Homo sapiens: one gene and its partner. The protein of the gene in region 1 binds, or shares a complex with, the protein of each later gene. Each region holds a gene or a part of one and is shown on either strand. Other genes may lie near its edges. The genes, in order: IRAK2 and IRAK4.

Region 1 (16,520 bases):
TAACCAACTTTTTTTCCTTTTTTTTTTTTTTTGCAATAGTGCTTATTACCTTTAAGACACTCTGTAACATACTATATTTATTATTTATTGTTAGTCTTTCTCTCCACACCTAGATTGTAAGTCTTATGAAAGCAAGGGCTTTTGTAGGCTTTTTTTTTTTTTTTTTTTTTTTTTTGAGACAGAGCCTCACTCTTCACCCAGGCTGGAGTACAAGGGCACAATCTGGGCTTACTGCAACCTCCGCCTCCAGGGTTCAAGCGATTCTTCTGCCTCAGCCTCCCAGGTAGCTGGGACTACAGGCGTGCGCCACCGTGCCCGGCTAATTTTTGTATTTTTAGTAGTGACGGGGTTTCACCATATTGGCCAGGCTAGTCTCGAACTCCTGACCTCGTGATCCGTCCGCCTCGGCCTCCCAAAGTACTGGGATTACAGGAGTGATCCACCGCGCCCGGCTGTAGGGTTTCTTATTCAGGTATTACCAACACCTAGGGAGTTGCCTGGCATACAGTAGGTAATTAATGGAGTATTTGATGAGCGCATGATGCATGGTGTAGTGCCGATGGAAGTGGGGTCAGAAGGCCTCCTGCCGCTGCGGCAGAATTCCCGTGTGGCCTTCTCCCACCAGGGCCTCAGTTTCCCCTCGCAGTTCCGATTCTCTGGCCGGCGCTGGGGTGGAGCCGGCGGGGCCGTCGTGCCGCCCGTGGCCGCTGGGGACGCTGGTGCCCTCCCGCCCCGCCCACTTCCCCGCCGGTCCGCCCCTGGCTAGAGAAGCCGCAGCCCGCAGTGTCCGACCCAGTCGTCCCGCGCCGGAGCCGGCCCCGTAGCGTGCCATGGCCTGCTACATCTACCAGCTGCCCTCCTGGGTGCTGGACGACCTGTGCCGCAACATGGACGCGCTCAGCGAGTGGGACTGGATGGAGTTCGGTGAGTGCGGCCCGGGGAGGGGAGGGGACCAGGGCGACCGGAGCCCCCAGCGATCCCGCCTGGAGCGGCCGCCAAGCTCCCTCGGGCACCCGGGTTCAGCGGGTCCCGATCCGAGGGCGTGCGAGCTGAGCCTCCTGGACCGGGTCCGCCGCGGACCTCGGCCTGTCACCTGAAGGTGCCGCGTGGTCTCTGAGGACGTCTGTCGACGAGCAGGGGCCGCCGCCACTGCGCTCTGAGTCCAGAGAACGGTGGGTACGGGGGCCCTCCTGTCAGCGCTGCTGGCTCGGTGACGTCCCCAGGTGGCCTCTCATCCAGCCCACAACAGCCTGCAAAGTGCGAGCCTCGACCCTGTAGGGACCCACGGTGCTGTCACTTCTTGGGGGGGTGTGTGTGTGTGTGTGTGTGGTGTGTTTAGTTTTAGTGTATATTAGAAGGATCTATGATTTAACATATATATATATATTGAAACGGAGTTTCGCTGTTGTTGCCCAGGCTGGAGTGCAATGGCACGGTCTCGGCTCACTGCAACCTCCACCTCTGGGATTCAAGCGATTTTCCTGCCTCGGCCTCCCGAGTAGCTGGGATTACAGGCGCCCGCTACCACCCTGGCTAATTTTTTGTATTTTCAGTAGAGACCGGGTTTCACCATGTTGGCCAGACTGGTCTTGAACTATTTTTTTTTTTTTTTTTTTTTTTTTTTAAGACGGAGTCTCACTCTGTCGCCCAGGCTGGAGTGCAGTGGCGCGATCTAGGCTCGTTGCAAGCTCCGCCTCCCGGGTTCACGCCATTCTCCTGCCTCAGCCTTCTGAGTAGCTGGGACTACAGGCGCCCGCCACCACGCCCGGCTAACTTTGTATTCTTAGTAGAGACGGGGTTTCACCGTGTTAGCCAGGATGGTCTGGATCTCCTGACCTTGTGATCCGCCCACCCTGGGCCTCCCAAAGTGCTGGGATTACAGGCATGAGCCACCGCGCCCGGCCTCCGGAACTCTTGATCTCAGGCGATCCACCTGCTTCGGCCTCCCAAAGTGCTGGGATTACAGGCGTGAGCCACTGTGCCCAGCCTATTTATCATATTTGTGATTAAATGTACTTTACCATTATAGTTTTAAAATCAGATATTTACTTTTAGTGTACATTGTTTTGATCACAGTATTTATGACTATCAACCTGTTTTGAGATCAGATGTGTCCTAATAGATTCAGTGTGTATAATGGGGCCTAAGCACAAGCACTTACTTTCACTCTATTGCAAGGTGCACAGTTCTAGATAATTCCGTGGGAAGGCACTCAGACAGCCTCCATATGTTTTGTTTGTTGGTGCCTGACGGATGACTGGCGGAGAGGGCCATGGACTCTGCGGGGAGGCCGCTTGCCTGTTGTCTCTGCTTTCCAGGTGGAGATCTGCATTCCAGGCTCTTGCTGTATGACTTTGGGCCAGTTTGTTAACCTCTCTGAGCCTCAGCTTCTGAATCTGTATGTAAACTGGAGATGATAATTATAGCTTCTTCATAAAGTTGTGAGGAATGAAAATACTGTATAAAAGCACTGACACCTAAGTGTTAAATATTCTTATAAGTCATAAGTTGTAATATTCTCTTTTCATTTTTATTTTTTTGAGACAGTCTCATTCTGTGGCCCAGGCTGGAATGCAGTGGCGAGATCTCGGCTCACTGCAGCTTCCGCCTCTTGGATTCAAGTGATTCTCTTGCCTCAGCCTCCCGAGTAGCTGGGATTACAGGCATGTGCCACCACGCCCACTAATTTTTATGTTTTTAGTAGAGATGGGGTTTCGCCATGTTGGCCAGGCTGGTCTCGAACTCCTGACCTCATGTGATTTGGCCGCTTTGGCCTCCCAAAGTGCTGGGATTACAGGCGTGAGCCACTGCTCCTGGACCTGGCTTCACTACTTTGAATGTTTCCTGGGCAGTGAACAAACTTTGTGTGAGACTCCCTCTCATTTTTTCCACATTGGCCCAGCCCTCAGTTACAAATGCCAGAACAACTTCTGTTTCTAGGAAATTCAATTAGAAGGCATACCTATGACTTAAAAAAAAAATAAAGCTTTACTGAGATATTCACATACCATACAATCCACCTGTTTCAGGAGTACAATTTAGTGGTATTTAGTATATTCACAGGGCTGTGTATCCATCTTCACAATCAATCTTAGAACATTTTAATCACCCGAAGAAGAAACTCTGTACCCGTTAACTTCCAATCCCCTCCTTCCATTTTCCTGAGTTTTAGACATTGCCTATTTTGGACATTTCATATAAATGGAATCATATAATATATAGTGCTCTGTGACTGACTTGTTTCAACTAACATGAGGTTCATCCATGTTGTAGCATGCGTCAATACTTAGTTTCTTTTTTTTTTTTTTGAGACGGAGTCTCGCTTTGTCACCCAGGCTGGAGTGCAGTGGCGCAATCTCGGCTCACTGCAAGCTCCACCTCCTGGGTTCATGCCATTCTCCTGCTTCAGCCTCCCTAGCAGCTTGGACTACAGGTGCCTGCCACCATGCCCGGCTAATTTTTTTGTATTTTTAGTAGAGATGGGGTTTCACTGTGTTAGCCAGGATGGTCTTGATCTCCTGACCGTGTAATCCACCTACCTCGGCTTCCCAAAGTGCTGGGATTACAGGCGTGAGCCACCGCGCCCAGCCAGTTTCTTTTTATTGTAGGATAATGTTCCATGGTATGGATATACTACATTTCATTCATTTATCAGTTGTTGGGCATTGGGTTCTTTTCACTTTTGGGCCATTGTGAATAGTGCTGCTGTGAACACTCACATACAAGATTTTGTGCAGTGGTGCAAATGTAGCTCACCGCAGCCCCAACTTCCTGGGCTCAAGCGATCTTCCTGTCTCCTGAGTAGCTGGACTACAGGTGTGCACTGCTGCACCCAGCTAACTTTTGTATTTTTTGTAGAGACAGGTTTCACCATGTTACTCAGGCTGATCTTGAACTCTGGAGCTCAAGCGATCTGCCCATCTCACCTTCCCAAATTGCTGGGATTACAGGTGTGAGCCACTGCATCTGGCTTTATGTTTAACTATTTGAGGAGCTACCAGATGTTTTCTAAAGTGGCTGAACCACCAGTGTATGAGGATGACCATTTCTCCACATCCTTGTCAACATGTGTTATTTTTTTCTTTTTTTAATTTTTTTTTTTTTGAGACAGAGTCTCGCTCTGTCGCTGAGGCTGGAGTGCAGTGGCATGATCTCGGCTCGCTGCAACCTTAGCCTCCTGGGTTCAAGCGATTCTTGTGCCTCAGCCTCCCAAGTAGCTGGGATTACAGGCATGCACCACCGTGCCTGACTAATTTTTGTATCTTCAGTAGAGACAGGGTTTCACCGTGTTGGCCAGGCTGGTCTCAAACTCCTAACCTCAGGTGATCTGCCCGCCTCGGCCTCCCAAAGTGCTGGGATTACAGGTGTGAGCACCATGTCCGGCCTTATTGTTGCTTTTTTGATGGTAGCCACCTGAGCCAGTGTGAAGTGGCATCTTACTGTGGTTTGATTTGCATTTCCCTAATGACTAATGCTGTGGAGCATCTTTTCCTGTGCTTGTTGGCCATTTGCACATCTTCTTTGGAGAATACCTCTGCGAGGCTCCCCACTGGGATGGATATGATCTGAACACCTTGCCAGGCATGTTGACTCTGACACATCTGCCCAGTGCTGGCCTCTCTGACCTCCTCTTCTTCCACACCCACTGTCACTCCCCTGCTCCAGCCACACTGACCTCCCTGGGCCAGACACAGGGTCTTTGCAGGTGCTGTTCCCTCTGCCTGGGACGTTCTTCCCCCTGTGTTACCTGGGGCTAGCTTTCTAGTCTATTAGTTTCCTCCTGTTGCAGTTATAGATTACTACAATATCAGGGGAACCAGCCCGCAGTATTTCAATGTAGGTTCTTTTCTATTTTCCCTAAGTGTCGGCCGGTCTGAGAAATAAAGAGTACAAAGAGAGAAATTTTACATCTAGGCCTCTGGGGGTGCTGTTACACATTGGTAGGACCGTGATGGTGACCCCGAGCCACAAAACCAGCGAGTTTTTATTAGGGATTTCAAAAGGGGAGGGGTGTACGAATAGGGAGTAGGTCCCAGAGATCACATTCTTCAAAGGGCAATAAAAGATCACAAGGCAAAGGTGAAATTAGAATTACTGGTGAAGGTCCATGTCCCACTGGGCACGCATTGTCTTGATAAACATCTTAACAGGAAACAGGGTTGGAGAGCAGACAACCCGTCTGACTAGAATTCACCAGGCTGGAATTTCCCAATCCTAGTAAGCCTGAGGGCACTGCAGGAGACCAGGGCATATTTCATCCCTTATCTCAACTGCATCAGACAGACACCCCCAGAGTGGCCATTTATAGACCTACCCCGGGAATGCGTTCCTTCCCCAGGGTTATCAATTATTAATATTCCTTGCTGGGAAAAGAATTCAGCGATATTTCTCCTACTCACACGTCCATCTATAGGCTCTCTGTGAGAAGAAAAATATGGCTCTATTCTGCCCGACCCCACAGGCAGTCAGACCTTATGGTTATCTTCCCTTGTTCCCTGAACATCACTGTTATTCTGTTCTTTTTCAGGGTGCCCTGATTTCATATTGTTTAAACACCCACGTTTTACAATCAGATTTCATATTTTTCAAACACACGTTTTACAAACAATTTATACAGTTAATGCAATCATCACAGGGTCCTGAGGTGACATACATCCTCAGCTTATGAAAATGATGGGATTAAGAGATTAAAGACAGGCATAGGAAATTATAAGAGTATAAATGTCCATAAAATCTTCACAATTTATGTTCAGAGATTGCAGTAAAGACAGACGTAAGAAATTATAAAAGTATTAATTTTGGGAACTGATAAATGTCCATGAAATCTTCACAAGTTGTATTCTTCTGCCGTGGCTTCAGCCGGTCCTGTTCGGGGCCCCTGACTTCCCACAACACTACAAAGTTGGTGGCCTGTAACACCTCAAGTTTATTATCTCAGCATTCTGGAGGTCAGAAGTCCTAACTCAGGGTGGCTCTAGGGAGGAGTCGGTCTCCTGGCCTTGACTGGCTTCCTGAGGCCTGCAGCATCCTGTGGCTTATGGCCCCTTCCTCCATCATCAAGGCCATGGGTGTGTATCATCACATCTGTCTCTGTGACTTCTGCTTCTACCATCACCTCATCTCTGAATCTGATGTTCTGGCCTCCCCCTTACAGGGACCCTGGTAATTACCTTGGCCAGACCCAGAGAATCCAGGATAATCTCATCTCAGAATCCTTGATTTAATCTAACCTGCAAAGTCCCTTTTGCTATGTAAGGTACCATATTCACAGGTCTCGGGGCTTAGGATGTGGATGTTTTCCAAGGGTATTATTCTGTCTGTCACAGTCCTTCAGGTAAGCTCCTGTGGCACCTCTTTGAAATCAAGAGGACTTTCCTGCCCCTGTTCCTCTCTAGCCCATCACCGTGTTTCATTTCCCTCATTCCGCTTCACAGCCTTTGATGTCCCCTCGTTCCTGAATTTTTTCCACCTGTCTCTCCCTATGGAATGGAAGCCCCGTGCGGGCAGGGGCCTTACCTGTCTAGTTTTTCACTGCTGTATTCCCAGAGCCTGGGACAGTGCCTGGCTAGAGGGCAGGTGCCAGAATGAATGATGAGCTGCCAGGCCTTGGTGTGGTGAGGATGCGGGCTGCCCACTCTTACCCATTGGAGCTGGCCTGGAGCCTTTGGTCAGCCCACTTCCTACACTGGATCAGAGCCAGCGGTGCCTCCGGCCCACTGCTCCTCGCCCAGTCCCAGTGCTCCAGTTCCCTCTTCAGCTGAATGAACGAGTGACTGTGATTGACCCTTCAGTCCTAAAAATTCTTGGCTTCCTGTGGGTCATTTTAGAAAGAAGACAGTCCCTCAGAGCTGATGGTGATACTGGGAGAGTGTAGTGAGAACGCTAAAGTGATTCAGAAGATCCCGCAGCCACAGACAGCCACGCTCTTTCAGATCCGACACTTGTTGGCAGATAATCTGGCCACGCCTAGTTCTTGTCTCCGTGATGGCAGCTGCCTCTGTTGGGCTTTGCCTGAGCCTGTGTAAAAAGGGTTTCCTACAGCTTCAGCCCCAGGTGTGTGCAGAGGGGCTCGGCGCAGGGGCTCTTCTGTGTGTGGCCGTTCCCCGTCTCGTTCACTCATGCGTGTGCCAGCCTTTGTGCACAGCCCTGCTTTGCCCTGCCCAGCTGTGTGACATCAGGCAGGTGACTATCTCTCTCTGAGCCTTTAGTTTCCTCATCCATGAAGCACCCTCACAGTGTTGCTGAGAGGCTTAGGAGACTCAGCTTATTGTAAAGGGTCAAGTTAGGGCTTTCCTCATCCCCCACCCAGGGAGGGGTGTGGGCATTCGATTCTAAGATGGGTCATTTCAGGAGGCTGTGCCATCCCTGCTGTGGAGGACTTTGAAGACAGGCAAGGTTTTCTACTGCCTCGGGTGAACTCCTGCAGGATTCAGGAACTCAAGAGTGATAGTCCCTGTACTGTTAATCATCAGGGATAAAAACATTTTCAGGCCAGGTGCAGTGGCTCACGCCTCTAATTTCAACACTTTGGGAGGCCTAGGTGGGAAAATTTCTTGAAGCCAAGAGTTTGAGACCAGCCTCGTGATCCGCCCGCCTCAGCCTCCCAAAGTGTTTGGATTACAGGCGTGAGCCACTGCACCCAGCCTTTTTTTTTTTTTTGAGACGGAGTCTCACTCTGTTGCCCAGGCTGGAGTCCAATGATGCAATCTCAGCTCACTGCAACCTCGGCCTCCTGGGTTCAAGTGATTCTCCTGCCTCAGCCTCCAGAGTAGCTGGGACTACAGGCGCCCGCCACCACACTCTGCTAGTTTTTGCATTTTCAGTAGAGATGGGCTGGGCGTAGTGGCTCACGGCTGTAATCTCAGCACTTTGGGAGGCCAAGGTGGGAGGACCACGAGGTCAGGAGTTCGAAACCAGCCTGGCCAACATGGTGAAACTCTGTCCCTACTAAAAATATGAAAATTGGCCAGGTGCGGTGGCTCATGCCTGTAATCCTAGCTCTTTGGGAGGCTGAGGTGGGTGGATCATGAGGTCAGGAGATTGAGACCATCCTGGCTAACACAGTGAAACCCCGTTTCTACTAAAAAAAAAAATTAGCCGGGCATGGTGGCAGGCGCCTGTAGTCCTAGCTACTCAGGAGGCTGAGGCAGGAGAATGGTGTGAACCTGGGAGGTGGAGCTTGCAGTGAGCAGAGATCGCACCACTGCACTCCAGCCTGGGCGACAGAGCGAGACTCCGTCTCAAAAAAACAAACAAACAAAAAATTAGCCAGGTGTGATGGCACTCGCCTGTAATCCCAGCTATTCGGGAGGCTGAGGCAGGAGAATTGCTTGAACCTGGGAGGTGGAGGTTGCAGTGAGCTGACATGTGCCATTGCACTCCAGCCTGGGCAACAAGAGTAAAACTCCGACTCAAAAAAAAAAAAAAAAAAAAGGCCGGGCGCGGTGGCTCATGCCTGTAATCCCAGCACTTTGGGAGGCCGAGGTGGGTGGATCACGAGGTCAGGAGTTTGAGCCCAGCCTGGCCAACATAGTGAAACCCCGTCTCTACCAAAAATACAAAAATTAGCTGGGCATGGTGGCACATGCCTGTAGTCCCAGCTACTCGGGAGGCTGAGGTAGGAGAATTGTGTGAACCCAGGAGGTGGAGGTTGTGGTGAGCCAAGATCGCGCCACTGCACTCCAGCCTGGGCAACAGAGCGAGACTCTGTCTCAAAAAAAAAAAAAAAAAAAAAAAAGTAGAGACGGGGTTTCATCATGTCGGCCAGGCTGGTCTCAAACTCCTGACCTCGTTATCCGCTTGCCTTGGCCTCCCAAAGTGCTGGGATTACAGGCGTGAGCCACCGCACCTGGCCAAACTCTATGAAAAACAGGTTTTCATAGAATGTAGATAGTTTAACACTTACAGCTAATACTTATATCATGTTTATTGTGTGTTAAGCACTGTTCTGAGTGCTTCTGTACATAGAACTCATCTAATCCTTGCAACAATCTCGGAGGCAGGTGCTGCTGTTATCCTTGTTTGACAGATGAGGAAACTGAGGCTCAGGGGGAGATGAACACCTTCCCCAAAAACACAGCAAGTAAGCAGCAGAGACAGGATTTGAACCCAGGCCCCGAATCCCAATATCTGGCCTCTGAACCACCACTACTGTCCTGCTGACTTTCGCACATGTTTTCATATCTGTAGAAAAAGTCTGGAAGATTAGACACCAAAATGTAACTGGTGGTGTCCTTGGAGTCCTCCAAGTGGGATAATCATGGGGACTTTCATTTTCTTGTTTCCCAAATATTCTACGATGACCAGCTATTACCTGTCCATGCTGAGAAAAAAGCTGCAGCTTAGCAGAAGGCCTTGGTAGTGACTCATCCCCTCAAGATCTCTATCATGTCCCGACTCTAAAGGGTCTGGTTGAGACTGGGTACGGTGGCTGATGCCTGTGATCCCAGCTCTTTGGGAGGCCAAGGAGGGTGGATCACTTGAGCTCAGGAGTTTGATACCAGCCTGGCCAAGATAGTGAAACTCCATCTCTACTAAAAATACCAAAAAATTAGCCGAGAGTGGTGGCACATGCCCTGTAGCCCCAGCTACTTGGGAGGCTGAGGCAGGAGAATTGCTTGAACCTGGGAGGCATAGGCTGCAGTGAACTGAGATCACGCCACTGCACTCCAGCCTGGGCAGCAGAGCAAGACTCCGTCTGAAAAAAACTAAATAAAATAAATAAAGGGTCTGGTTAAATGCTGATTGGTCAACACCTTAAGATATGGCACCGTCATGGAACAAAAATGTCTAAGCTGGAAGGCACCTTAGAGTTTAATTCCTGTTTCTCTTGTATTACCATCACGAGTAAGGAAAGTTCAGCCCACAGAGAGTCAGGCTGTGGCTGAGTTCCTGCTGCCACCCACGAGGGGTGGCCCTGGGCTTCTGTTTTCCCATTACGTCATGCTGCCTCCCAAGATGGGAGTGTGTGTGGATGACCAATGCTTCGTGGGGGGAGATGGTCCTTCCTTTTCCATCCGTTCTCTTCTCTGTATTGCTAGAAGCAGCCGCTGACCCAGCTGACATCACTTCCCACTGACCAGCAATCTGGCCTGGGGTTTCCAGTGACTAACATAGCAATTTAGGAACTTTCCATCTTAATTGGGCACTTCTCCTGGAGGCTTTCTGTGTGCAGGAGACTGTCACCAGCCCATTTTGTCCAAAGGGTAGGGGATTGTGCAATCTGGTCACAGCACTCACTGGCTCTGAAATTTTCTGTGGTCCCTTGTAACTCTTAGGATCAAGTCCAAACTCCAAAGCTGGGCATTCACTTGAGGGTCTTTGTTATGTGGTCCTGGGCTTCATCTCTTGCCTTCCCTTCTTCTACTCGGCCCACCTATGTTTATATATTTTTTTGTTTTGTTTTGTTTTATTTTTTTGAGATGGAGTCTCACTCTGTTGCCCACGCTGGAGTGCAGTGGCGTGATCTCGGCTCACTGCAACCTCTGCCTCCCGGGTTCAAGTGATTCTCCTGCCTCAGCCTTCCACGTAGCTGGGACTACAAGTGGGCACCACCACGCTTGGCTAATTTTTGTATTTTTAGTGGAGATGGGAGTTCACCATGTTGGCCAGGCTGGTCTCGAACTCCTGAACTTAGGTGATCCGCCCACCTCAGCCTCCCAAAGTGCTGGGATTACAGGCATGAACCACTGCACCCGGCTGATTACTCCTAGTTTTAATAAAAATGCCTTTCTCACTTCAGTAAACCAGTGGAATACTGGTCATAAAAATCCATTTATGGGCCAGGCACAGTGGTTCATGCCTGTACCAAAAAAAAAAATTAGCCAGGAATGGTGGTGTGTCTGTCATCCCAGCTGCTGGGGAGGCTGAGGTGGGAGGATTGCTTGAGCCTGGGAGGCCAAGGCTGTGGTGATCCATGTTTGCACCACTGTACTCATGCCACCTGGGCAACAGAGTGACACCCTGTCTCAAAAAAAAAAAAGATTTTTAAATTTTTATTTATTTTTAATTTTTATATTTTTGAGACTCAGTCTCTGTCGCTCAGGCTGGAGTGCAGTGGCACGATCTCAGCTCACTGCAACCTCCACCTCCTAGGTTCAAGTGATTTCTCCTACCTCAGCCTCCCGAGTAGCTGGGAGATTACAGGCGTGTGTTACCACACCTGGCTAATTTTTGTATTTTTAGTAGAGACGGGGTTTCACCATGTTGGCCAGGCTAGTATCGAACTCCTGACCTCAGGTGATCCACCTGCCTCAGCCTCCCAAAGTGCTAGGATTATAGGCATGAGCCACTGTGCCCAGTCCCTGTGGTATAATGTTAATAAATAAGACCAGGATGCAGAATCTCAGGTGAGGCATGGTGGCTCACACCTGCAATCCCAGCACTTTAAGAGGTTGAGGTGGGAAGATTGCTTGAGGCGAGGAGTGCGAGAGCAGCCTGGGCAACATAGTGAGACCCCATCTCTTAAGAAAAGGTACAAAATCAGCTGGGCACGGTGGCTCACGCCTGTAATCCCAGTACTTTGGGAGGCCGAGGCAGGCGCATCACAAGGTCAGGAGATTGAGACCATCCTGGCTAATGTGGTGAAACCTGGTCTCTACTAAAAATACAAAAAAATTAGCCAGGCGTGGTGGTGGGCGCCTGTAGTCCCAGCTACTCGGGAGGCTGAGGCCGGAGAATGGCCTGAACCCGGGAGGCGGAGCTTGCAGTGAGCTCAGGAGTGCACCACTGCACTCCAGCCTGGGTGACAGAGCGAGACTCCGTCTCAAAAAAAAAAAAAAAAAAAAAAAGAAAAGATACAAAATCTTACCTGCAGCGTGGCAACAACTACATCCAAAGACACATCTATGTAGAGGGGGTGATTTTTGGAAAGGGGAAGTACCCTAATGGCCTTAGGAGGGTGGTGAGATGCTGTGTAACTTTTCCCCCTGTATTGTCCATGTTTTTTTTTTTTTTTTTTTTTTTTGGTGAACAACCATCAATTTTATGGTAAAACACCAAAAGAAAGAATGCATTATTTTTATTGTTACTAGTGGTAGCTCCCTGCAAGTTTTGTCCCATACTTCAGAATTGGCAAAGTATTTTTGTATCCATGGCTCTCTGATCCTTATAACAGTTCTGTGAAGACGATGTGGTATGTGTGTGTGTTTTCATTCAGTCATTCACTTAGCATATCTTTTTTGTTGTTGTTTTTGGAGACAAGGTCTTGCTGTGTTGCCCAGGCTGGAGTGCAGTGACATCATCGTGGCTTGCTGCAGCCTCCAACTCCTGGGCTCAAGTGATCCTCCCATCTCAGCCTCCTGAGTAGCTAGGACTACAGATGCATGCCACCATGCCTGGCTACTTTGTTTATTTATTTATTTATTTATTTTGAGACAGAGTCTCTCTCTGTCTCCCAGGCTGGAGTGCAGTGGCGCGATCTTGGCTCATTGCAAGCTCTGCCTCTCGGGTTCATGACATTCTCCTGCCTCAGCCTCCCGAGTAGCTGGGACTACAGGTGCACGCCACCACGCCCGGCTAATTTTTTGTATTTTTAGTAGAGACGAGGTTTCACCATGTTAGCCAGCATGGTCTCAATCTCCTGACCTTGCGATCTGCCCGCCTTGGCCTTCCAAAGTGCTGGGATTACAGGCGTAAGCCACTGCGCCTGGCCTACTTCGTTTATTTTTTGTAGAGACAGGGTCTTTTTTTTGTTTTGAGATGGAGTCTCGCTCTGTCGCCCAGGCTGGAGTGCAATGGCGTGATCTTGGCTCACTGCAAGCTCCGCCTCCCAGGTTCACGCCATTCTCTTGCCTCAGCCTCCCGAGTAGCTGGGACTACAGGTGCCCGCCACCACGCCCGGCTAATTTTTCTATTTTTAGTAGAGACAGGGTTTCACCGTGTTAGCCAGGATGGTCTTGATCTCCTGACCTTGTGGTCCACCTGCCTCGGCCTCCCAAAGTGCTGGGATTACAGGTGTGAGCCACCATGCCCGGCCTACTTTGTTTATTTTTTGTAGAGACAGGGTCTCACTATGTTGCCCAGGCTGGTCTTGAACTCCTGAGCTCCAGCAATCCCTCCTTGGTCTCCTAAAGTATTGGAATTACAGCTGTGAGCCGCTGCACCTGGCCTCATACACTTGTTGAGTTCCCCTGACCAGGACTGGGACTTAGCTGAGAGGAATGAGATGCCCAGGGCAAAATGTAAGGAGGCGCTGATGCTCAGGGTCCTGCGGTGCCACCTGAAGATGAGCGCCTCCTGCATTTTCCTTCCCTAGGTGCCTCACCTGACTCACCCTCATCCTGGCCCCACCTCCACTCTGAACCAGGCACTATTCTCAATTCTGGGGAAGTAACAGTGAACCAAACAGGTAGAGCTCCCTGCCTACACGGACCTTCCATTATAGAAGGGGAGGCAGGCAGAGCTAGTACCCACTGAGGCTCCCACGGGCGCAGTGACTGCCCCAGGCATAGCAGCAGCCAATGCTCAAGGCTTTGACCCTCCTGTCCCGTGGTCTTTCTCCTAAGTCATATGTACTGGACCCCATGGGTGCCCAGCAGAGTCAGCGTTGTAACTTGGGCCACCTGTGGACCTCAGCTAATGGTGGTGTTTCCAGTGTGGAGGCGGTGGTTGGGGAGGATGTCCTGGAAAAGCCCAGCTAGGGGCTAGTGTGGGGACCTGTCCTAGAGGGACTGCCTCTCTGACTCTAAGCAGAGTTCTCTCCGTCCCTTCCAGCCTCCTACGTGATCACAGACCTGACCCAGCTGCGGAAGATCAAGTCCATGGAGCGGGTGCAGGGTGTGAGCATCACGCGGGAGCTGCTGTGGTGGTGGGGCATGCGGCAGGCCACCGTCCAGCAACTTGTGGACCTCCTGTGCCGCCTGGAGCTCTACCGGGCTGCCCAGATCATCCTGAACTGTGAGTAACTCAGGGCCCTCCTTGAGTGGGGCCCATCACGCTCCTGAGCAGTTTCCATCCGTGTGAGTTGCACTCTCTGGCCTTAATACTTTTTTCCTCTTTTAATTAAAAAATTTAATGAGTGAGTTTACCATGCACATAAGAAACTGGTAACAGGCCAGGTGCGGTGGCTCACGCCTGTAATCCCAGCACTTCCGGAGGCTGAGGTAGGTGAATCACCTGAAGTCAGGAGTTTGAGACTGGCCTGGCTAACATGGTGAAAACCCGTCTCTACTAAAAATACAAAATTAGCTGGGCTTGGTGGCCTGCGCCTGTAATCCCAGCTACTCAGGAGGCTGAGGCAGGAGAATCGCTTGAACCTGGGAGGCGGAGGTTGCAGTGAGCCAGGATTGCACCACTGCACTCCAGCCTGGGTGACAGTGAGACTCTGTCTCCAAAAGAAAAAAAAAAAAGAAACAAAAAAAAGAAACTGGTAACAGTGGTTACCTGTGGGGAGAGGAACTGGGCTGCCAGAGAACACAGTATTGGAGGGAGACTTTACTGTAAATTATTTCATACCTTTTAAATTTGGGCTATCTGTTCCAAAAATAAATACATTAATTAATTTAAAAAACCCCAATAGCTATAACAAAAATTCAAAAAAGCATGCAGCAAAAATGATTCATATTGCTTCTTTTCCCCACTTTACATCCCAAGAAGTAATGATTGGTAAAAATTTCTGGCTTGTCTTACTAGAAATTTTCTCTGCATGGGCAAGGGTATTATATATCTGCAATTCCTTTTTTAAAAACTTTTTTTTTGAGACAGGGTCGTGCTCTGCTGCCCAGGCTGGAGAGCAATAGTGTGATCAAAGCTCACTGCAGCCTTGATGTCCTGGGCTCAAGTGTCCTCCTGCCTCAACTTCCTGAGTAATTGGGACTATAGGCACATGCCACCATGCCTGACTAATTTTTCATTTTTTTGTAGAGATCCAGGCTGGTCTTGAACTCCTGGTCTCAAGTGATCCTCCTGCCTTGGCCTCCCAAAGTGCTGGGATTGCAGGCATGAGTCACATCACCCTGCCTGCAACCCCCTTTTGATACAGCTAGTAGCACATCATGTATTGTGAATTTTTTTTCACCTAGCAAAGACCTTGGGGACTTTTCATATTGACACATTCTTTCTAATAGCTACATTGTATTCCTTTGACAGATGCTCTATGATTTGTTTGCCCCTATTGAGATGTGTTTATGTTCCTTCTAGCATTTTTCAGTTGTTTTTTTTTTTTTTGAGATGAAGTTTCACTCTGTCTCCCAGGCTGGAGAGCAGTGGCACGATCTTGGCTCACCACAACCTCCACCTCCCATGTTCAAGAGATTCTCCTGCCTCAGCCTCCCAAGTAGCTGTGATTACAGGTGCCCACTACCACATCCAGCTAATTTTTTTTTTTTTTATATGAAGTCTCTCTCTGTTGCCCAGGCTGGAGTGCAGTGGTGAGATCTCGGCTCATTGCAGCCTCTGCCTCCTGGGTTCAAGTGATTCTCCTGCCTCAGCTTCCTGAGTAGCTGGGACCACAGATACCCACCACCATGCCCGGCTAATTTTTGTATTTTTAGTATAGACGGGGTTTCACTGTGTTGGCCAAGCTGGTCTCAAACTCCTGACCTCAAATGATCCACCTGCCTTGGCCTTCCAAAGTGCTGGGATTATAGGTGTGAGCCACCGTGCCCAGTCAACTTTTTGTAGTTTTAGTAGAGACAGGGTTTCACTATGTTGACCAGGCTGATCTCCAACTTCCAACCTCAGGTGATCTGCCCACCTTGGCCTCCCAAAGTGCTGGGATTACAGGTGTGAGCCACCATGCCCAGCCATTTTTCTATTCTGTATAGTGTCATGATACACTTAGATGTATAGAGCCTGTTTTGCACACATGTAAGTGTAGCCATGGGATGGCTTTCTATTATAGTATTGGAATGTCTGGGTTGAAGGTTTTTGCATTTTAAGTGTTGATTGATATTTAGTATTAACAAATTACCCTCCTCTGAGAGAACAGGATCATGTGTGATGGGGACATATTTAGCTGGTAATACCTCCCTACCCTGAAGGGTGGCTGTGAAGTCGAAGAGAATAAGTGCCTGATGTTCAGCTGGTGCTCAGCAGAAGGCAGTGGGGATGGGGGGTCTGGTTACCCCCACCCCTCCTCACATCCCCAAAGAGACCCCCTCAGCGTAGGGCAGGGAGCCAGTCTTCTGCATGTACTTAACTGAGCACCTGCCTGGTTCTGCCCTAGGTTCTGGAATACAGCACAGGCAATGTGACAGGTCCTCCGCCCTCATGAGGACACAGTCTTGTGAGGAGACAGTTAATGCATAGGAAAACTAGTACAGAAATGGGCAGGCAGGATACAGTGACCAGATAGGGGAGCCTCCTAGGACAGGGGGTCAAGGAAGGCCAGTGTGAGGATGTGAACCTAGAGGAATAGGAAGAAGACAGCCACATGACGCATTGGGTAAGAGCTCAGGAGAGAGGGGCCAGCATGTGCAAGGGCCCTGAGGAGCCAGTGGTGGGAGCCCCAGACACCTGGGGAGGAGCTGTCCTGTCTGGGGTTCCTGAGCTGGGAACCACCTGGCTGGACCATCAGACCA
Region 2 (16,520 bases), on another chromosome or scaffold:
ATATTTGGTGAGTCAATGGTATTATATTTTGTTTTTTAAATATATGCAAAGCATTTTCAATTACTTACTGTTGTGTTGGATCAATGTTCAAGAAAGATATGTTAAGTTTAATTTATGGTACACCAGCACATATCCCAGTTTGTAATAGGCAGCCCTATCTAATTTAATAGCTCTGGAAGCCCTCACCAGCTTTTGTTCATAATGATGATGTTAAAGTATCTAAAAATAAAGATTAATGGTTATACAGCATATTTTGCTAAGAATATATGGAAGTAAATAGTGTATTTTAGAAAGGATATAAATACATTAAAATTACCATGGTTGATCAAATAAGACAGCCACCATCTCAAAAGCTTAGCTATTTTCTCAGACTTGTTATTTGTACGCTTTCAGTAGATCCTCACTACTGTTCTGGAAATTGAACCTAAATACAGTCTGCACATATCTTTAAAAATAATGTGATATAAGAATAATTTCTGCCAGGAAATAATAATTGCTCCTTTTTTTTTTTGACCACCTATTATTATGTGACAAGATTTGGCCCTTTGCATGTGTTGATTTTAATTCTTACAGCAATTCTTAGGTATTACTATCTCTGTTTTTCAGATAAAGAAAAGCAAGGTGCAGAGAAATGTATTTACTAGCTCTGGTCACAGTTGGCTTTGGTTAGAACTTAGGCCTGTGCAACCTCAAAGTTCATCTTCCCTCCACCCCTGCACAATCTTTTCCTCTGATCAAAGTGCTAATGAAGCAGTCTTAAAACTTTATTAACACATTTGACAAGAATCTTTTGCCCTCCTGTTTTGGGCACAGTACTTTGGGAAGGCATTGGATTCCATAAGCAGGTGCTTATTTTAATATATTTCTCAATCACCACCCCACCTTTTACACTTGTCTGAATTGTCTTACTTGAAAATATGAATGGGTTTTCTTTACTATGAGAGTTAGTGGTATGAGGAAACAGTCATGAAGGTATTTACTTATTTGTAAGCAACATATCCTGTTCCACCTGTGTTAATCCTAAGTGTACTAAAGTAAATCTTGAAGAATTTGAAAGAGATGACACTTTTTAAGTTTTTTTTTGCCCAGTCTGTTTTCATTATTGAAAATTCAGAAAAGCAAAATGAAAACAAAACTATCATAAAAGTCATCACCAAGGGATAACCACGTTAATATTTTGGCTTATGTTCTTGTAAGTATGTGGTTGGGAGTGGTATATGAATATACATTTAAAGTAAAATTTTAATTTCTGGGATTTTGAACTTCTGGGCACATGTGTGGAGGAGTTGCAGAAGGCCTTCTTTTTCCTAGTATCCCTACACTTATCACCTCTGCTGGAAGCCTGGGTGCAGGAGAGCTACCAAATTTATCCCTGGCCTTTAGATAGTCTGGGTTTTTTCCTCAATTCCTTGTATTTTGCTCTAATTTATAAGACTACTAAGCAGTTCTATCTTGTCTAGCTTTGTCAATCATGTTGTACCTTACAGTAGAGAGAAATCTTAGTAAGGAAAAATAACTTGAAGAGAGCAACTGCAGAGTCTATAGGCAACCTAGATACAATTTCTTAATTAAAGTTAAAAAGTCATCAGCCTTTCATTCAACACAAATGTTGTGAGTCGTTGCTGAGGTGAATTTGGTTGGGTCCTAGCTCAGGAGAGCACCCATCTAACAGAGAAAGCAAACACATAAACAGTAAAACATAATAATTATTATAACAGAAGAATGACTAGGTGACATTTTGGAGCAAAAGAGATGACAATCAGGGGAAGCTAACAGTGCCTTTTGAATTGGGCTTGAAGGAATAATAGGCATTTACCAGGTGGCCTTTAAGGTATGTGGGCTATTCTTTTACCTGGCCCTAGATGACTTCATTTCCTGTTTCACAGAAAAAATAACAGTATGTGGGAACTCTTCTCCCTTCAAATATATCTGTATTTAAACCTCTGCTTCCTTCTTTCTAGATTCAAAAGAGGTTTCTCTCTATTCAAGGCTGATTTCTTCACCCTATATGCTATTCATTATCCCATTTGTATTGCCAAACAGCTTAAGTCTTAAACCCTTAACACCAACAGTTCTCAAAAGTCTGGTTGGAGTCCCTAATGCTCTTTCAGGAGATTTGTAAGGTCAAAATCATGTTTAGTTAAAAGATTCATTCAGAGTGCAATGGATTTTAATGTTCCAAGTTAATTTATACAGCTTCAGATTCCTCATTGCAGCTTACCTTTAGGAAGTTATTTCTTGTCAAATTTTAGTGTAGTATCAAAGAGAAATATCTACTACTTTGTGAAAAGGCTATTAAAATACACCTTTCTTTATAACTATATGTCTGTGTGAAGCTGGATTTTCTTCATATACATCAACCAAAACAACATGCTGCAGTGGGTTGAGTGCAGAAGCAGATACAAGAATTCAGCTCTCTTCTATTAAGTTAAATATTGAAGAGATTAGCAAAACTTTAAAACAATGTTGTTCTTCTGTTTTTGAGGAAAAGGTAATTATTTTATTAAAATATATATGCTAACATCTATATTTATGATTATTTTAAATGAATTAATAAGTAATTTTTAAGTTTCTCAGCATCAATTTATTATGGTAAATATTGGTAGATATAACCAACATAAACAAAAGCCCTTTGGGGTCTACAATAGTTTTTAAGAGGGTAAAAGGTCCTGAGACCAAATTTGAAAACTGCTACTCTCTTGCATGCTCTCCTCCCTCTCTTTCCCTACCCCTCCACCCCCATTTTCCCTCCCCTCATACTCCTCTCTCTCTCTTTCTCCTTCCCTTCATAACCAGACTTCTTGGAAAATCTGTTTTTGCCATTCACTCACTTTTTCACTATAGCTGTTCCCAAGTCACCAATGGCCTTCTGATTTCAGAGTCTAACATATCCATCAGTGTCTATTTGACCTCTCTGAGTCTTTTATACCAACCTGCCACCTTTTCTAGAAGTCTCTGGTATGCTACCATCCTGGTTTTTTTCTTGCCTTCATGACTAAGCAGTATTTTTTAAAATTCTTCTTTCACATCATTCCTTTCCATTCTAAGCATTCCTAATAGGCAACCTCATTTTATTGTTGCTTCAACTGTATATGTGTATATGCTCTTAATTTGTATGAGGGCATTTCAAAAAGTTTGTGGAAAAATTGAATTAAAAGATAAAAAATGTAAACTTTGGCTCAGCACTATGGCTCATACCTGTAATCCCAGCACTTTGGGAGGCCGAGGTGGGCAGATCACCTGAGGTCAGGAGTTCAAGACCAGCCTGGTCAACATGGCGAAACCCCATCTCTACCAAAAATACAAGAATTAGCTGGGTGTGGTGGTGCACACCTGTAATCCCAGCTACTTGGGAGGCTGAGGCAGGAGAATCGCTTAAACCTGGGAGGCAGAGGTTGCAGTAAGCCAAAATTGCACCACTGCACTACAGCCTGGATGATAGAGCAAGACTCCAAAAACAAAAACAAAACTGTAAACTTTATTTCTGAACATAAGCCCATGAAGTTCAAGACACTTTTGTAAGCGATAACACCAGCCATTTGGGCCATCCCTAAAGAACTGAGAGTCCTGGGAATTTAACCACATCAATGAAGTCTTTTTTACATTATTAACTGAAGAAAAATGGGTGCTCTATGAAGATTTTTCAAGATTGGGAAACAAAAAGAAGTCAGAAGGAGACAAATCAGGACTGTAAGGTGGATGCCTAATGATTTCCAGTTGAAACTCACAGAATTGCCCTTGTTTGATGAGAGAAAAGAGCAGGGGCATTGTGATGGAGAAGGACTCTGTGGTGAAGCTTTCCCAGGTGTTTTTCTGCTAAACATTTGACTAAAGCTGTAACAGAAAAGCTTTAGTTTAGAAACACTTAGAAAAGCTACTGTTTCTCAAAACCCTCTCTAATAAGCAGATGTTACCATTCTTTTTCCCTCCAGAAAGTCAGCAAGCAAAATACCTTGAGCATCCCAAAAACCTGCAGCCATGCCCTTGCTTTTGACTGTCTGCTTTTGCTTTAATTGGACCACTGCCACTTTGGGGGAGCCATTGCTTTGATTGTGCTTTAGGATCATACTCGTAAAGTCATGTTTCATCTCCTGTTACAATTTTTTGAGGAAATGGTTTAGGATCTTCATCCCACTTGTTTAAAGTTTCCATTGAAAGCTCTGCTCGCATCTGCAGCTGATCTGGGTACAACAGTTTGGGCAGCCATCAAGTGGAAAGTTTGCTCAACTTTAATTTTCAGTCAGAATTGTATAGGCTGAACTAGTTGTCTATGGTGTTCACTGTTGGTTCTGCTGTTAATTATAGGTACTCTTCATTTAGGGCACAAACGAGATGAATGTTTTCCTCGAAAATCGATGTGGATGGTCTGCCGCAGCAGGCTTCATCTTCAACATCATCTCATCCCTTAAAATGAGTTACTGATTTGTACACTGCTGATTTTCTGGGGGCATTGTCCCCATAAATAAAGCATCAGTGATTTCACCATTCTTCCAACCAACCTCCACCATAAATGTGGTGTTTGTTCTTGCTTTAGTTTTAGCAGAATTCATGTTGCTGTGGTAGAGGTTCTTTTCAAACTGTCTTATTCTTCTCAGTGTCTCAACTAGATCCTGTTTAGACATGAATGATAAGTTAGTATGAGTTTATTTTGGAAATACATTTTGCAAAAAAAAAAAAATTGAAATCCATGCATGGTTTTTGCACGATATGCATTTTCCATGAACTCTTTGAAAACCCCTTATATATGAGAATACTTACATAATGAGCATTCTTTGCTGAAACCTCTCTCCTAAGCTCCAGACCACATATATAAGTACTTGGTATGAAGGCTCCTAGATAGTGCCAAAGGTAGATATTTCACATTTAACATGAGCCAAAAAAAAAAAAAAAACTTCATTCTATCTCCCTTTCTTCTAATCGCTCATCTCTAGTGAAATTGTTTTGATTTGGCCTCCTAAATGTTTTGACGTTTTACCTCTCCATTCCCCTACCCTATACTTTTTCCAAGCTCTCCTTTCTGCTCACCTGGATTATTGCAGAAGTTTTCAAACTAATTTTCTTGCCTCAATATACATCCCTTTGATTTTTATCCAGAGGAATCCACTTAACCATATAAGATTATTTAACATCCCTCCTAAAAATCCTAAAGTGGCTCTCCTGTAACTTTTAGTTTATAAGTTCAAACTCTTTGTCTTAGCACATGAGGTACATGATGATCTGGCCCTGCTACCTTTCCACCCTCATCTCTTCTCACTTAATCACAGGCATCCTGTGGTCCAGCCATAGCAAGCTCTTTGCCTGAGACACACATGCTCTTACCTTTTCCCATGCTATTCCCTCTGCCTGGAATTTTCTTTTGGGCTTATCCTCATTCCCTTTCATTCATCCTTCCAACCTCCTACTCCAACCAAATCTGTCTTGATATCCCTATTCCAGACTGCCTCTGCTTGATGCCCCTTTTCTGGGCCCCATAACATTCTTGCAGCATTTATCACTCCCTGTCACTGTTTGTATCCCCTGGTATACTGAACAGCTTGGAAACAAAGATTTTCTCTTCTCTGTGCTCCCACTTGTTAGTACAAAGACTGACATAAATATTTTCTGAATGTATTCATGAATGAAAGGAAAGGAATGGTCTTTCTGAAATAGAGAATGGCATGAACAATGCATTGTGTTATAAAAGCAGAGTTGTATGGCATGACTTTTGGAGTCAGACATAATTGTAAGTCCTGGATCTCTCACTTACCACCTTTGTAAAATAGAGATGATAAAACTGTACTGGGAAATAATTTAGTTGTTCCAAAAGTAAATACTGAACAATACCATTATCTACAGTATGCAAGTCACTAGGTGTATATTCATGAATAAAATTAGCATGGTCCTGAACTCATGGATCTTAAAATCGAATATGGGAGACAGTAAACAGGTAAACAAATAAGTATATGATTACAAATACATTGTGCAGTGATGAAAGATAATTAGGTGAAGGGCAGCTAGACCTATTTAGATGTGGTCAAAGAAGTCCAAAGAGAAGAAGTGAATACTAACATAGAAGCCTCTGATACAGAGAAGCTTTTCGCTTTTTACTCTTTTTGATAGTTTTAGAATGTTGTTCCATATGAACACATTATTTACTCTAAAATTGTATTTTTAAAATATATATAGGGAAGCAAAAATAATTGACAGAAGAATATCTGAGTCTATTTGTCTTAATTGGAAGGAAAGATCATTTCCTATTGAGAATGAGGGACACGCAGAACAAATAAAATCCACATAGAAAGAAGTAAAGGTATGAAATAGTCACTAAGGACTATGAGAGAAGACAAGTGGAAGGATTAACGGCAGTGTTGAAGGCCCTGTGGAAAGGGGGTTACCATAAATTTGTATTCACATCAGCAACCCTGGTGTACAAGTAAAGTTGTTAGATTTATCCCTGGCTGCAGCTCTCCAGGATGGAGTAGCAGAAGTAAAGGGGGATTGCAGAAATAAAGATTCTGTCTAGAGAGTAGTTGAAGTGGTGAAGCACAGGTTTTGGCGTAGTAGCAAATGAATTGTGGTCAGGCAGATCTCATGGACTCAAAAAATGTGCAGAGGTCAAGGAAGAGCAAAGTATGTGAAAAGTGGGTGGGTGGACCATATCTGTTAATGCTACACAAATCATTTCAGTACGTTTTTTTTTTTTACTTCTACCAAAGAATGTTGCATAAATTTTAATTGTAAATAAGTACTAATTGAGAAACATAAATTGAAAGGTAAATGTTTTTATTAATAGATTTGATTTCTGAATATGCTAATTCTGATAGTTTGTTGATATTACTCTTAAGAATTTTTCTGGTAAGTTTTTTGCCCCTTTCTATAAATTTTACTAGGAAAATATCAGTGTCAGAAAAAAGTCCTCCGATTTTTATTGCTATTAATGGGTGGAAAAAGGAAGCAAACCCAGAGGATAATTGGACAAATGAATTACAATTTTAATTTCATCTTAGGATATCAATGACTTGACTTTGGAATGTTTCTTTATTATGGTATAATCAGTTGCTGACATTTCATATGATATAGCAAAGTGTGATATATAAGCTTACAGATGTCATCTCTAAAAGTACTGTAAAATTTTAATGAGATTTTTCCATATTTTAGGAATAGAAGATGAACAAACCCATAACACCATCAACATATGTGCGCTGCCTCAATGTTGGACTAATTAGGAAGCTGTCAGATTTTATTGATCCTCAAGAAGGATGGAAGAAGTTAGCTGTAGCTATTAAAAAACCATCTGGTGATGATAGATACAATCAGTTTCACATAAGGTAACAGATAAAATTCTTTGTATTTTTAAATTCTTACATCACAATATGGAATGATTAATTGGTATAAGTACTGTCTAATGTGGCAGTTTAGAAAGTAAACCTCTCCACTATGGAGGAGACATTGGTAGTAGGTAACCTCTTTTTGATTGTTCCTTTTGCAGTTTTGTCTTCTTTGTCCCATATGTCAATAGGGCTAATACTGTGATCTCTCAAATAAGTTTTTTGGGTTAGAATCAAGATTCCCACCTTTGCTGTGGTTCCCTGTTTGGCAAGCCAAGTGAAGTTCACTCTGCCTCACACTTCTCATTTCCAGATTGAAGGAAAATAAGAATGTTACAAGAATGTCTGGTAAAAATCTAGAGCTTAAATTTCAAAGTGTGTGAATCTCTAACACACTCTAACAATGTATTTTGGGACTTTTTCAATTTGACGTTTTAAAGTTGTTGCTTACAAGTGTACACTTCTGTGCACAGAATTCTTAAATCTTAGCTAGGATTTCTCAGTGCTGTCTTCAGATAATTTCAATTTTTCCTTTTTACTCATCTCTGCTCAATTTAGTGTAAAATATGCATGCATATTTTATTTTTGTCAGTCATTGCAGTTAAAACCTATGTCAAAATGTTTCTTTGGTAGCAAAAGGAAAAGAAGACTATTTGTTATTTTCAGCATTAATCTGGGAAAGAACCTAAAAGACTTGGCTCCCTTGCAGGAAATATTTCCTCATAAGAAGAGCGAACATGTTAAATTACTTGAAAGAAGCTTAAGTTTAAACTGTGTTAAGCCAATGTTTAAAGATAATTTTTTGATATTACTGTTAAAAACTTATGGAAGATAATTGGGGCAGTGGTGGCAGGAAGATAAAGCTCTTCTCTTTTTTTTTTCTTTTTTCCAAGACTCATTCCTGTGACAGAAAAAGCTTTTCTTTACAGAATAATACCTGCAAATAATTGTGAAAAGAATGGTAGAATGAGAAAAATACCTATTTGCAACCACCAATGAGTAACTGATTCATGCAAGGCTCATCACTGAACCTAAAAGCATAAGGTGAAAGGTGGTTGTTCTCGTGCATGTGAGCAGGATATGCACAAGATTTTAAAGTATTATAGGCTGAGCACAGTGGCTCATGCCTGTAATCCTAACACTTGTGGAGACCGAGGTGGGCAGATTGCTTGAGCCCAGGAGTTCAAGACCAGCCTGGACAACATGGTAAAACCCCATCACTACAAAAAATTAGCTGGGTGTGGTAGTGCACGCCTGTAGTCCCAGCTACTTGGGAGGTTGAGGTGGGAGGATCACCTGAGCCCAGGAAGTCAAGGCTGCAGTGAGCCATGATCATGCCACTGCACTCCAGCCTGAGTGACAGAGCAAGACCCCCTCAATAGATAGAGAAAAAGTATTGTACACAAATTACTTGTGAAGTATGAAAGAGAAGGGTACATTTTTAATGAGGAAATCTGAAGTACACTTCCTTCACCAAGTGATCAAACTTTAGCACCAATAATAATGGTACAAAATGCTAATATGTACCCCTGGATGTGATACAATGGGAAAGGCACATTATACCTATGTAGTATTTCTACCAAAATGCTTAATCTGAATTTAATCATGAGAAAGTAGTCAGATAAATCTAGGCTGTTAGACCCATTCTATAAGACATCTGGCCCGTATTCTAAAACACACACACCCACAGACACAGATTGAAAGAGAGAATGCACAAGAGCCCAGATATGGCACAATTTTATCAATTATTCAATTGGTGAATCTAGGTGAATGGTTGTTCATTCTATCATTTTTTCAACTTTTCTGTAAGTTTGAAATTTTTAAAAATAAAATCTTTAGAGGAAAAACAGAAAGAAACAATATTGGTTAAATTTTTAAATGTTACTTTTCAAAACTAATTTTTGATTTTAAAGAAATGGAAAGAAATGGGTTGAAAGCCGACTTTGTGATTTTTTTCAATTTAATTGAATTACAGTTAAGATCAAAGGAATAATTTCCTAAGTTTTTGTGTGTTCTGTTTCTTTAATTAAGCAGGTGCATTTATTAAAAATTATATAGCTATCAGAGTCTTAAGTCATGTGGGAAGTAATATTGCTAGTAGATTAAGAATACACTCTTTTGTCAAATGAGATCTGAATTTGTACCTCAACTTGGATACATCATATTGGCTGTGTGGCTATGGGCTGGTTACTCTACCTCTCCAAGCCTGGCTTTTTCACTAGTAAATTCATATGATAATCATAATATCTTTGAACATGCTCATGTGTGTGCATCCTATAACCCACTAAGTAAATATCCAGTAAGTACCCAGTAAATTATTATCATCATCTTTGGCATCTTTTTTCCTCCTATCTTTCCTGTCTCTCTGTAATTCTTGCTGGTTCTCTTGTTGTCCCTTTTCTTTAATGTTGTAGGAGATGCTGTGGGCAAAATGGGCAGGGGAGATCAACACCTATTTTCATATGACCTCAGTTTATAAATGCTATTGTTTGAATGTGTCCCCAAAAGTTCATGTGTTAGAAACTTAATACCCATTGCAACAGGGTTGATAGGTGGGACCTTTAAAGGGTAGTTAGGCCATGAGAGCTTTGCCCTTATGAGTGGATTAATGTCGTCATGGCAGGAGTGGGTTAGTTATCTAGGGAGTGGGTTTCTGATAAAAGGATAAGTTAGGCCCTATTTTTCTTTTTCTCTCTCTCTCTTTTTTTTTCTCTTTCACATGCACGTGTGCATGCTCTTTTGCCCTTCTGCCCTTCCACCATGAGATGATGTAGCAAGAAGGCCCTAACCAGATGCAGCCTCTCGATCTTGGACTTCCCAGCCTCCAGAACCGTGAGCCAAATTAACTATTATTTATAAATTACCCTGTCTGTGGTATTCTATTATTGCAGCACAAAATGGACTAAGACAATAGACTAATTTTGTTTCTTTGTTACTTACTTTTAAGGAGATTTGAAGCATTACTTCAAACTGGAAAAAGTCCCACTTCTGAATTACTGTTTGACTGGGGCACCACAAATTGCACAGTTGGTGATCTTGTGGATCTTTTGATCCAAAATGAATTTTTTGCTCCTGCGAGTCTTTTGCTCCCAGGTAAACTGATTGTGACCAGGGTGTCCACAATTAGGGTGGAAAGACAAATGGCAGAAATATAAATGTTTCTTCTTACTCTTCCTTTTTTCTCATAGTAGATGAAGCTTACATTTGAGAGTCCCTTTCTTTCAGCACTCCTCAACTCTTTAAAAAGCAGCACAGACAAAGGACACTGTGGACTCTGCTGCTAAGGTGATAGAAGCTTCGTAAGAGTTAGATAGTTTTGTGCCAACAGGAAGTTTAGAAGGAAAGACTTCATACTTCTGGCTTAGGCTGTAAGAAAGTAATTATAATTTTGAGTTCTTCCTTTTTTTCATCTTCAACTTCTACCCTGATGGGACTCTATAATCATAATTTTAAAAAATTGTATTCTGATGTGGTAGTGTCTAGTTGCCTTCCTTATAAGCTTTCTTTTTTTCCTTTGATGCCTTTCACACCAGTGGTTCTCAACCTTTATCATGCATAAGAATCACTTAGGTTCTGGTTAAACATGTAGTTTCCTAGGGTCTGTTCCAAATCTATGTAATCAGAATTCTGGAATTGGGTTTAAGGTCTATATTCTTAAACAGGTGCTTCAGTGCCTCTGATATAGGTGGCTCATGGATCACTGTTTGAAAACACTGCCTTACTCTCTTTACCCATCTTCATTATAACTTACAGATTCTTACTAGGCAGCTTCTTGTGTGTGCTGTGAGAATATGAGACCAACCTGTAGAAACTGGAATGATATTAAATGAACCAAGTTTCTAGTTTAACTTTTTCACAACCACTTTTTCTTACTGAAAAACCACTTGTATCTTACTTCATTTGTTAGATGCTGTTCCCAAAACTGCTAATACACTACCTTCTAAAGAAGCTATAACAGTTCAGCAAAAACAGATGCCTTTCTGTGACAAAGACAGGACATTGATGACACCTGTGCAGAATCTTGAACAAAGCTATATGCCACCTGACTCCTCAAGTCCAGAAAATAAAAGTTTAGAAGTTAGTGATACACGTAAGTAACATTTTCAGTGCTTTCCACTAGGGATTTGTCATTAAGACTACCAGTGCTTTAAAAGAAAGCTCTTGCTCTTTTGTTTGTGCAGCAATCACAGGCACACTGGCAATAGCTCTTTTGTGAGTTGTTTCCTCCTGATATATTAAGAACCATCTTCATTGTATTAATCAGTGATTAGAGGCAATAGGACATGCAAACAACCAGAGAAGCTATGAAAAAAAATAAGTAAATATTTACATAACTTGGAAAGGTCACTTTTTAAAATAAAATATGTGACTAGAGTTTTGGGTAGGTAGACTAGACCCACTCAAATGTGTGACTAGAATTTTGGGTGGGTGACTACAGTGTTCAGAGGGTAGGATCACCAAACAGAGTTCTCAAGAAAAACTTATAATTTGTATTTTAGAAATGGTTTTATCTTCTCTCATCTTGTCTAATTCAAAATCATAAATATTTGCATATATGTGAAATCTTCAAATGAGAAAATATTATAATTATTAAAACGAATTTTTAAAATTTAAGCATGTTTTTCTTATTTTGACATAGGTTTTCACAGTTTTTCATTTTATGAATTGAAGAATGTCACAAATAACTTTGATGAACGACCCATTTCTGTTGGTGGTAATAAAATGGGAGAGGGAGGATTTGGAGTTGTATATAAAGGCTACGTAAATAACACAACTGTGGCAGTGAAGAAGCTTGCAGCAGTAAGTTATATTTTCAGGAATAAAAAGAAAGAGTTGCTTCATAGTGTGCCCTATAATAGGTTTTAAAGTTAATCTTTAGGAAATACATTATTTCAGTATGTATTTTCTTTAAATAAACATCATTCTAAATAGTAGTTCTTAAAATTTTAAAATCTGTTGAACACTATGGACCCTACCCCTAGAAAAATGTGGTTATGTCCATGTACACAAGATCATACATACAATTTTGGGAGATTCACAAACTAAAGTTGAGAAGCCCTGCTCCACATAGTGCTTCATGTGTAATCAAGATTAAAATGGTAAGATACCAGGAAAACTATTTTTAAAAAACCTTGTTTGCATTACTTTTCCCATTTAAAAATAAAATTTAGGAAGTATACATTAAGAAAAAACATTAAAATTTTTTTTATCTGTGTCCTTTGTTGCCATTTCTACTGAGGTGTTTACCTTTTACTTACTTGTTATATTCTAAATCTTTTGTTAGAGCCTAAAAATATCAATAGAATGCATATGTATGTGATAAAGATAGTCACTCTTTGTCATATATGTTGCAGGGCTTTTGTAGGGTTTTTTTTTCCATTTTGCACCTAAATTGCTTATGTTTTCTGTTTCCTAGAATTTTTTTCAAATTTTTTTGTGTAGTGAAATTTCGTGTTATTTCATTTTGTTTCCACAACTCAGTGAAATTTATATATATTTTTCATTCCACTAACCAGCCATGGGCCTTGAGCAAATCACTAGTATTTCTAGATCTCAGTTATTCTGTAGAATTGGGAGAATAATACACTATTGTTTTAAAGAAAGGGAGATGAGCCAGCTGATCTCTTGATCCCTCTGAGCATTAGGAACCTTAGAATTGTGTAGTATTACATTGTATATTTTATTTTTTCAGATGGTTGACATTACTACTGAAGAACTGAAACAGCAGTTTGATCAAGAAATAAAAGTAATGGCAAAGTAAGTCTTAATCTGGCAGTGCGGTGTAGTGGAAAGAAAAAAGACAAGGAGTAAAGAACCTGGTTCACTCTAGAGTATGCCATGAACTAGTGATGTTTGCACATATATGAAATTAAAATAAAGTGTTTAGATTAGAGAAATTGAAAGTACTTTTGGCTCCATAATTCTATGATTACATATACTCATATGCCTGGAGATTAAATAGCAGTCATTTTTATTTATTTATTTTTTTTGAGACAGAGTCTCGCTCTTTTGCCCAAGCTGGAGTGCAGTGGCATGATCTCGGCTCACTGCAACCTCTGCCTCCCAGGTTCAAGCGATTCTCCTGCCTCAGCCTCCCGAGTAGCTGGACCTACAGGCGTGTGCCACCATGCCTGGCTAATTTTTTTCTGTATTTTTAGTAGAGACGGGGTTTCACCGTGTTAGCCAGGATAGTCTCGATCTCCTGACCTTGTGATCCACCTGCCTCAGCCTCCCAAAGAGCTGGGATTACAGGCGTGACCACGCCTGGCCGCAGTCATTATTTTAAGTCACAACAAAGTTACGTGAAATTTCACTATCATGTCCTTCATTATCATGTTTTCCACTTCCAGAATTCATGAGAGATCAATTGTAGAGATACTTAAAAACAACTATCTATAGAGTAATAGGCCCTTATATATAAAGTAGCATCTATAGAGCAACTAGAGTCATGTTATCTGTAAGGATGCTTAGAAGGCATTGATCCTGTGTGCTGGAAAATTGTTGGACATCATCAGGAAAAGTAGGAGGGACAAAGTAGGAAATGTATTCTAATTATTATAGTGATTAATAGTGATTGATATTTGAGTGTGTGCAACATGCCAGACATTGTGCTATGTACTTTATGTGCATTGTCTGTCTAACCCTTACAACTGTTACAACTGCCCATTTTGTTTGTTAACTGAGATTTAGAAACATTAAATAGCTTGTCCAAGATCACATAGCCAGTAAGTGTTAGAGATGGGATTGAAATCCAGATCTGTTTGATTGCGGAGCCTGAACTTTAGATCTGAATCGTAATGGGATTTACCAAATTATACCCATTAAACCCACTGCTGTAAATCACCAATCATAGTTACCTAACCTCAAGTAAGAAGAATAGACTAGAATTGATTTATGCACGGTAAAAATGATACATGCTGAAAAAAGATCAAACTTTTTTTTTCAGGATTTGTCTTCTTCACTCCTACCCCTACTCTCCAATTCTAAAAGTAACTTGTTCACAGTAGGTCATCTGGAAAATACAGGAAAACATTTTTAAAATATACAAGCCTATATGCATGCAGGACTTAATACGTAGGTGATGGGTTGATAGGTGCAGCAAACCACTATGGTACACGTTTACCTGTATGACAAACCTGCACATTCTGTACATGTATCCCGGAACTTAATAATACAAACCATCTCTCAAATATATCACTCAGAGATAACCACTGCTAATATTTTTATATACTTGCTTCATGATGTGTGTGTAGCATTTTCCCATGTCACTAAAAATAATTTGAAAACATTTTAAATTATTGTACAACAGTCTAGCATATGTGAAAATCATATTTTATTTAACCATAGCTAGGTTTGTTTCTAATTTTCAGTATTAAAAATAAAGCTTCTTTAAAGTTCTTTGCACATAAATCTTTAAATGCAGTTATACTTACTTTATCATCTAGGGTAAAGTCCTAGAAAAAGAATTACTAGGTAGGAATGCATGAACTTTTTAAAGACTTTCTAAATACACATTCAAATGGCTTTTGAGATAAGTTACTACCAGCAATGTATTACAATTTCAAACTTTACTGGTTCCTTACCTTCATTTAATATCATTACTTTTTTTTTTTTTTTTTTTTTTTTTGAGACGGAATCTCGCTCTGTTGCCCAGGCTGGAATGCAGTGGTGCGATCTTGGCTCACTGCAAGCTCCGCCTCCCAGGTTCACGCCATTCTCCCGCCTCAGCCTCCAGAGTAGCTGGGACTACAGGCGACCGTCACCATGCCCGGCTAATTTTGTTTTTGTATTTTTAGTAGAGACGGGGTTTCACCACGTTAGCCAGGATGGTTTAGATCTGACGTCGTGATCTGCCTGCCTCGGCTGGGAATACAGGCGTGAGTCACTGCGCCCGGCCTATTATTACAATTTTTTAATAAGTGCCAGTCTCTGGATCTTACTAGCAGAATGAACTTGGCCAAGTTTTTTAACTTTCTATTCGTTAATTTTCTCATCTATAAAATGGGACAATAGTACTTACTTAAGTTATTGTGAGGATTAAATAAAACAGATAAATCACTTGCCACACTGCCTCGTTTATAGTATAAATTCAGCAAACGTTAACTACTCATGTTTAAAATGTGCCAGTTTGGTGGAAAATGGGACACTTACTGTTTTAATTTGCACTTCTTCAAATATTTATGAGACTAGAAGAAATTGATATAATGAACTGCTAGAATTGTGGATCATTTTGAATGAACAAAATGAATAAGCACTTAAATAATAAAACACTTATCATGTGCCAGATACGTTTCTAGGCTGTCATGTTTACATTTGCTCATTTAATTGTCTCAGCATCCATATTACATACTGTTTTCTGCATTTAGCAGATAAAGGAGCTGAGGCTCAGTAAGGCTGTTAACTTGCGGTAGGTCACATATCCAGGAGGGGGCAGAACTAGACTTTAAATTTAGGATGTATAACTCTGAGCCCTGTTTTCTTTCGTCTTACCACAGATGCTGCCACTTTATTAGATTGTAGGTCTCTTTAGTTTTATTACTCTCAAGTATATAAAGACACTCAAATTAGGTTATAAATAATCCAGTGTGATTAAAGATCAAAAACATGTAAATTAGATGTGATTCAAGATCATGTCTGTAAATCAGTGCTTTGAGTGTGTTAGAAAATTCTTGACAGTATTAGCATAAAAATTCAACGGACTTCTTGAAATCTTATTTGTGCCATCATTGAAAATTGGGCTAAAGAAAGTGAGCATCAGCCTAGTCCTTAACCAAACTTATCACAAGTTCCAAAAATCTGAATTATTTAGCTTTTACTGTAAAATAGAAAGAGGTTTGGCCAGCTGTAGTGGCTCACACCTGTAATCCCAATACTTTGGGAGGCCAAAGTGGTAGGAGCACTTGAGGCCAGCAGTTTGAGACCAGTCTGGGAAACACAGTGAGACCTCATCTTTACAAAAAAATTTAAAAAGTAGCTGAGTGTGGTGTACACCAGTAGTCCAAGCTACTTGGGAGGATGAGTTAGGAGGATCACTTGAGTCCAGATGGTCGAGGCCGCAGTGAGCTATGATTACACCACTGCACTCCAGCCTGGGCAACAGAGTTAGACCCTGTCTCAAAAAAAAGAAAAAGAGGTTTTACTTCTAATGTTGATTAATACTGGCTGAAAAGAGAAGTATTTGCAGAAAATTATAAACAGTTACAATAAACATAT

The links.
Region 2: the proteins of IRAK2 (region 1) and IRAK4 are in contact, whole or in part, in a crystal structure (PDB 3MOP), measured with the Homo sapiens proteins. Residues at the interface, in NP_001561.3 of Homo sapiens: Tyr6, Ile36, Lys44, Met48, Glu59, Trp62, Trp63, Trp64, Gly65, Met66, Arg67, Gln68, Ala69, Gln73; in NP_001107654.1 of Homo sapiens: Asp24, Phe25, Pro28, Gln29, Lys34, Glu92, Phe93, Phe94, Ala95, Pro96, Ser98, Val105.

The regions. Positions count from the first base shown.
Region 1 is NC_000003.12:10,164,125-10,180,644, forward strand, and holds the start of IRAK2 (interleukin-1 receptor-associated kinase-like 2), read left to right. Parts: upstream 1-794; 5' UTR 795-830; coding exon 831-924; intron 925-13,713; coding exon 13,714-13,896; intron 13,897-16,520. UniProt on the Homo sapiens protein: Binds to the IL-1 type I receptor following IL-1 engagement, triggering intracellular signaling cascades leading to transcriptional up-regulation and mRNA stabilization.
Region 2 is NC_000012.12:43,760,966-43,777,485, forward strand, and holds part of IRAK4 (interleukin-1 receptor-associated kinase 4), read left to right. Parts: exon of another isoform or gene 1-7; intron 8-2,336; exon of another isoform or gene 2,337-2,491; intron 2,492-7,137; 5' UTR 7,138-7,146; coding exon 7,147-7,307; intron 7,308-10,072; exon of another isoform or gene 10,073-10,139; intron 10,140-10,254; coding exon 10,255-10,400; intron 10,401-11,214; coding exon 11,215-11,397; intron 11,398-11,946; coding exon 11,947-12,107; intron 12,108-12,999; coding exon 13,000-13,064; intron 13,065-16,520.